Homo sapiens: one gene and its partner. The protein of the gene in region 1 purifies or fractionates together with the protein of each later gene. This does not show direct contact. Each region holds a gene or a part of one and is shown on either strand. Other genes may lie near its edges.

Region 1 (3,500 bases):
TATGCTTTTGTAAACCATACTTGAAAAATGATATGCATAATATTCAAATATCAGAGTTTAAAATAAACATTTATTGACCATTTTTGGTTTTGGTAAATAAAAACAAACTCATTTTCAATATTATTTGCTATGACTAGACTTAAATACTTGCATCACATGCTCCATTTTCCCTGACTCTAAGTTGGAAAGAAAAATCTTTTAAAAAAAAAAAATTGTGACCCCCCCCGCCCCAAAAAAAAACCCACACTTAACATGTCTACAATCTTTGCCAAGTGACTATTTCACACCTTAAAGGGCAACAGAATGATCATTAACTATCTTATAATGAAAAAGGCTCAATATTTCTTCCAAGAGTGGAAAATTAAATGCCAATAACAAGAAAAATGTCAGCTTCTCCAGAACAACAAAAAAGTAAGTTATAAATATGAATACTAAATGGAAATTGTGCTGTAACCTTAATTCAGCTGGAAACCAAAATTCAAATTTCCCTTCAAGAAATTTACGCTTACTCAACAAAAAGAAAACAAGAAAGCCAGAAGGAGCTACAAAAATAAGCCTTCCAAAAACTAATTCAACAATGTTAATTCAAATTCGTGTCTTAAAATAAAATCATAGAACACTACGTATCATGGATTGCTAAGTCTCACACAAATAGAGGAAGCCCTGTTATAATACAGCAATTTAAGTCCAATAAAGATACCCAACATAATAATCACGATATGCATCAAAGTCGGCCAGATGCTCTGAGGTTGCACTGCTTTTTCTCATGTGAGTTTTTCTAGGGGCTACATGCTTCCTGTAGAAGCAAAGCTAAATAAATATGATCCCTAGTCACAATCTCATTTTGGTCATGCTAAAGAAGTTACAGAAAGGAACTAATGCTCGATCTGAATTTTATTTCTTCTCTTGCTATGCTAAAAAGAAAATCAATGTTTCTATTAACCCTGTCTTTGGAGTACCACAGCATATCCCAGTCCTACTTACCGTTCTCTAAGTTCACTAATAAGATCCAGTTTTTTCATGACTACTTGAAGTGGAAAGAGTTCTTCATCTTTAAATGTTTTCTATCAGGGACAGGAAAAAAAGGCAGAGAAGTTGCAGTCAAAGGTTTCTAGGGTCAGTAACAAGGGAACTGTGAAATCTCAGATCTCATTTCTGTTCCATAAGTAATAGCAATACACTTACCATTTGTGTGCCAACACTTAGTGCCAAAGAAACAATAAGTCGCCGTTGCTTTGTGCTTGGTCCATTTAGAGTGTTTTCAGCCAAAACTAGAGCAGAGAGCACATCAAGACGCTGTTCGCTGTATTTTTTGTCAGAAATCACTCTTTTCTTAAAAATAAAACAGGAAAACTATTTGTTTCTGAGGCAGTAACAAAAGACTCAGAAGAAAAACTTCTTGATTATCTTTTCCATGATTCAATTTAAGAGAGCATACACAAATACTTTCCCCATTTAAGCTTCTGACATTTATACTTTACTTCTGTAATATGATCCCTTAGTACTGTCAGAAACAGCAAATGTATTAGGCATACTTTAAAATTTCCATGTTAATTTACTAAGAAATCATTTTTTAAATGATGCATCAATTTCAAAAGTGCAATGTCTTTTTAGAAGTGTATTAATGTATTACATGCTGCAATTTCACAGTAAAGATAATGCCAATAACTTGAAGTAAAAATTGTAAAATACTATGGAGATAAATAACCGAGCATATTATGTTTGAAGGAATGGAATAAACAGGTTAAACCAGAAAACACATATAAAACAATGAAAGAACAAACAAAAAAGATAACATACTTATGCTAAATACATAATAAGCTGCATACCTTGGCCACAGAAATAGAATGAAGAGCCTGATGTTGAAGGTGCTGTGTTATATGTGAAACTGAATCAGCCACAACCATGCTTCTCCTGTAGAACATATGCTCTATTGCCTAAAAAGAATCAGAAATAATTTTCTGACAATCAACTTAAAAATTTCAGGCAAAATTATAGAAGATCTTTACGACCTTAGGCTAGGGAAGGGATTTGTAAATGAGATACAAAAAAACCTTACAGTCCTGGCGTGGTGGCTCACGCCTGTAATCCCAGCACTTTGGGAGGTCGAGGCAGGTGGATCACCAGGTCAGGAGTTCGAGACCAGCCTGGCCAACATAGTGAAACCCTGTCTCTACTAAAAAATACAAAAATTAGCCGGGCATGGTGGCGCACACCTGTAGTTCCTGTAGCTGAGGCAGAATCGCTTGAACCTGGGAGGCGGAGGTTGAGGTGAGCCGAGATGGCGCCACTGCACTCCAGCCTGGGCAACTGAGCAAGACTCCGTCTCAAAAAAAAAAAAAAACTTACAAAGTATAGAACTGATAAATTCAACTATACTAAAACTAAGCACTTCTGTTCATCAAAAGTCTCTATAAAGAAAATAAAAAGGCAAGCCGATGTATCACAAAATATCTACCAGGTACAAGTGACTAATGTTCAGGATATAAGAAGACCCAAAATGAATGAAAGATTTTGTTTTTTAAAGGCACACAATCCAATAAAAAAAATGGAAAAGACATGAACAGATTTTTCACAAAAGAAGAAACATAGTTAATAAATAATTGAAAGGATATTTACCATCACTAACAATCAGGGGTTAAATATTAAAAATCATAAAACCAATTATACCCACTAATTTATTTTAAAAAATGAAGCTCGATAATACCAGTGTTGGTCAATTGGAAATACAATTTTATTTCTAATGTAATTTTCTAATGTATTGTGGGAGGCATATATATATATATATATATATATATATATATACACACACACATATATATAGTCTGTCTATAGAGACAATGTGACATCATCTTGAAAAGGTGAACATATACGTAACACATAATCCAGTAACCAACTTTAGGTATATAATTCCTTACAAAAACTCCTGCACAAGTACACCAAGAAACACATACAAGGATGGCAACATTGTTTATGATACAAAAACCGGAAACAACCCGAAGTCTATCCACTACACAACAATGAAAATAGATGTGCTACTCATCCCAACATGGATACCCTCAAATACAAAATGCTGAGTAAAAAACAAAATGTTGAATAAAAAAATGGATCAAAAAATACATAAAATACTGCTCCACTAATATAAACTTCAAAAACATATATAACGATTAATGCTTTATTGATTCATCCATATTTGGCAAGCTAAAAAGAAAAACAAGAGAATGATAAACATAAAATTCAGGACAGTAGTTTCCTCTGAGGTGGACAGGTTGAGATGCAATTAGGAAAAAACACAGCATTTGAAAATATTGGTAACATTCTATTTCTTAAGTGGGACAGTGGGTATTTCTTAAGTGGGACAGTGGTTATTATTTTTAAAACCATGCTTATGTATTACATATTTATACATATTCTAACATACACATATACTTGTCTGTATTTATAGTTCATAAAAAATAAATCTAACATAAAATATCTATAAACAAATCATACAAAGAAAA
Region 2 (3,500 bases), on another chromosome or scaffold:
TAGGCAGGGGGAAGAGAGACAGAGAGGGGACACTGTGGAAGGGATTGGGAAGGACTGTCATAAGAGGGAGGGAGGTCTCTCATCCAGGAGGATGGGATCCAAGTGCCAGATCATGGACAAGACCCAGAAATGACAAGGGAACCCCAAAGCTGGAAAGGGAAGACTCGGATTCAAGGTGAGTTAAAACACCAGGGTAGAGGAAGACCCCCAGTGCCAAGAAATGAACTCTGACCCTGAAGAGGGAACCTGCAAACGGGATGGAACATGCCAGAGGTAGCACGGGTGCCCTTGTGCTGGGGAGGGGCGACGCTCCCACCAGGGCTGGCCTACTCACTGCATCTCCTCCAGGTGCATGAGCAGCCGCTCCGCCACGTGCCGCTCCCGGGCCTCGTAGCTGGCTCGGTCCCGCCCAACCCAAGCCTCCAGCTGGGCCAGCTCCTGCTCCCAGGGCGTCATGCCCATGAGCCGCTTGGAACGGAAGTCCTCCAGCTGCCGGCCCACGGCTACCTGCTGGCTTTGCACCACCTCCTGCACGAACCGCCGCTGGACATCCTCGGAGATGAGGTCAGCCCTAGTGCGGTCTGCAGGGACACACATGGGGGCTAGGGTCCAGCTCCCTGGTGGCTTGGACCACGGTCCCCACCCACCCTTGGACTCCAACAGCCACACGTCCTGAGGCCGCTGCCAAGAAGGAATGAATGAATCTCGGCTGTCCGAGCAGAGCATGGGAGTGCGGCCTCCCTCCCCTTGGCCTCCTGGGAGGTGTGGTCCCCGCTAGACACCTCTCCCTCATCCCATCCTTCTCCTTACCAAGTTCAAAGGCGACGTTGGGAGGGACCGGCACCCGGAGAACCTGCTCAAGAGAGAGAATGGGGTGAAGAGGAGGACTTGGTGTGCTGAGATGCAGGCCGGGAGGACTGCCAGGAACCCTGGTCTAAGCGAGGGTGCTGGGGAAGGCCTGGGTCAGCAGCTGCCCTCAGGGCAGAGGCTGGGGACCGCATGGTGACTCTGCAGGCCCAAACAGGGATTGCAGGGTTGGGGCAGCTTGAAGGTCTCTCACCGCTGTCTTCTCCAGGAAGCTGTGGTAGAAGTCCAGGAAGGCCTTCTTGGCCTCCTTGGGGCCCAGTGAGCCCAGCATGTCGGCATGCAGACAGCAAAGCTGGGGGAGACACACAGCATGACTCTCCGCTCCCTCACCCTGCCTCAAACCACACTCTCCCTTTGAAAAGGGCCTTCCTCACCTCCTGGCCATCCTATGGCTGTGGGACTCAACTGCCACTTCCTCTGGGAAGCACTCCCTGACCTCCACCCCTAAAGCCAGGCCCTGGGTTCCCCTGCAGGCTCCCTGGGGCTGCCATGAGCATTTTCTAATTTTCCATCCTGTGCTATGGTCCTTTGTGGTTCTTCATCATGGTCTCCTCCCGGCAATAATGACAACAACTACTACTACTGTCTATACTGACGGCTTAGTGTATACCAGACACGGCTCTACACCCTCTACATGCATTAACGTGTTCAATCATAGGGACCGTCATTATCCCCATTTTACAGATGAGAAAACGGAGCTCAAGAAGTTTAGTCAAGCTTAGTCGCACAACTAGGCTAGGCACAGTGGCTCACACCTGTAATCCCAGCACTTTGGGAGGCCAAGGCAGGTGGATCACATGAGGTCAGGAATTTGTGACCGGCCAGGCCAACATGGCGAAACCCTGTCTCTACTAAAAATAAAAAAATTAGTCGGGTGTGGTGGTGGGCACCTGTGATCCCAGCTACTCGGGAGGCTGAGGCAGGGAGAACTGCTTGAACCCAGGAGATGGAGGTTGCAGTGAGTGGAGATTGTGCCACTGCACTCCAGCCTGGGTGACACAGAGCGAGACTGTTTCATAAATAAATAAATAAATAAAACCCAAAATCACATAGCTACTAAGTGGCAAAGTTAGGATTCGAATCCAGGCAGCCTGTCTCTACTACACTCCACTGCCTGGAAAGACTGTGAGCAGCTTAAGGGTTTGTGTGTGTTGAGGGGTGTTGTAGGTTGATCCATCTGTGTCCCAGATGGTGGTGCCTTGTGCATACTGAGGGCTTGGAAAGAACAGGTGGACAAGTGGGGCTCACTCTGTCATTCGTCAAGCATTTCCTGAGTGCCCGCCCCTGTTCTGGGTGACAGTGGGGACTCCAACCTGTCCTGGCTCCTGGGGGCTCTCATCTGGGAAATGAACTCACTCCAATGGGAGTGGGACTTTTTCTCCTTTTTCTTTTTTGAGATGGAGTCTCGCTCTGTCACCCAGGCTGGAGTGCAGTGGCGTGATCTCGGCTCACTGCAACCTCCTCCTGGGTTCAAGCGATTCTCCTGCCTCAGCCTCTGGAGTAGCTTGGATTACAGGTGCCTACCACCAGGCCTGGCTAATTTTTTTTTTTTTTTTCCGCCTAGGCTGGAGTGCAATGGTGCAATCTCGGCTCATTGCAACCACCACCTCCCAGGTTCAAGTGAGTCTCCTGCCTCAGCCTCCCGAGTAGCTGGAATTACAGGTGTGTACCACTGTGCCTGGCTAATTTTTCTATTTTAGTAGAGATGGGATTTCACCATGTTGGCCAGGCTGGTCTTGAACTCCTGACGTCGGGTGATCCACCTGCCTCAGCCTCCCAAAGTGCTGGGATTATATGCGTGAGTCACTGCGCCTGGCCAATTTTCATATTTTTAGTAGAGACGGGGTTTTACCATGTTGGCCACGCTGGTCTCGAACTCTTGATCTCAAGTGATCTACCCACCTCAGCCTCCAAAGTTCTGGGATTATAGGTGTGAGCCACCATGCCCGGCCCCACTTTTTTTTTTTTTTCAAGACAGGGTTTCACTCTTGTCGCCCAGGCTGGAGTGCAGTGGTGCAATCACTGCAGCCTCAACCTCCCAGGCTCAAGCTATCCTCCTGCCTCAGCCTCCCAAAGCGTTGGGACTACAGTCATGAACCACCAGGCCCGGTCCTCCTTCTCCACTTTAAACAGTTTTAACACATCTATATCCACTCTTCACACCCCCCAAATATAGCAAAATTCTAAGACAGGCCAACAGGAAGCTGCCCAGGGGACCACAGCTATCTCTGATCGGCTCCCCACAAGCTGATGAGGTGAGGGAGCTATGCGAGAATAAACCTCAAAATGCCCAGAGGCCGCCGGGGTCACCTCAGGCAAGTCCCTGACCCTCTCTAGGCCTCGGTTTCCACATCTGTAAAAGAACATGGTAGTCAGCACGATCCCTGGGCTGATGTCCACAATCTGGTGTTCTAGAAACCCCAAGGCTTGAATAGGGGACTCCCTTGCTCAGAGGGCCAGAGTCTCCGTGCATGTGGTTGTCGGGGGAACCACTCTTCTGGAAAGAGAATGTAGACAGGGGAAAGACTGCAATTTCCTAATTTTCTGCATATCTGATGGTTTGGCGTCCGGATGACCAGCCTCTGGTCTTGCAGCTGACATGTTCTTCTTTCTGCATGCCTCGGGCACTTCTC

The links. The genes of interacting proteins can lie anywhere in the genome.
Region 2: the proteins of WASHC4 (region 1) and ARHGEF1 fractionate together in Homo sapiens (co-fractionation; one large-scale study listed by BioGRID). This does not show direct contact.

What each region holds. Positions count from the first base shown.
Region 1 is NC_000012.12:105,138,731-105,142,230, reverse strand, and holds part of WASHC4 (WASH complex subunit 4), read right to left. Parts: intron 1,938-3,500; coding exon 1,830-1,937; intron 1,333-1,829; coding exon 1,186-1,332; intron 1,065-1,185; coding exon 985-1,064; intron 1-984. UniProt on the Homo sapiens protein: Acts as a component of the WASH core complex that functions as a nucleation-promoting factor (NPF) at the surface of endosomes, where it recruits and activates the Arp2/3 complex to induce actin polymerization, playing a key role in the fission of tubules that serve as transport intermediates during endosome sorting.
Region 2 is NC_000019.10:41,889,684-41,893,183, reverse strand, and holds part of ARHGEF1 (rho guanine nucleotide exchange factor 1), read right to left. Parts: intron 1,160-3,500; coding exon 1,061-1,159; intron 854-1,060; coding exon 811-853; intron 582-810; coding exon 335-581; intron 1-334. UniProt on the Homo sapiens protein: Seems to play a role in the regulation of RhoA GTPase by guanine nucleotide-binding alpha-12 (GNA12) and alpha-13 (GNA13) subunits. Acts as a GTPase-activating protein (GAP) for GNA12 and GNA13, and as guanine nucleotide exchange factor (GEF) for RhoA GTPase.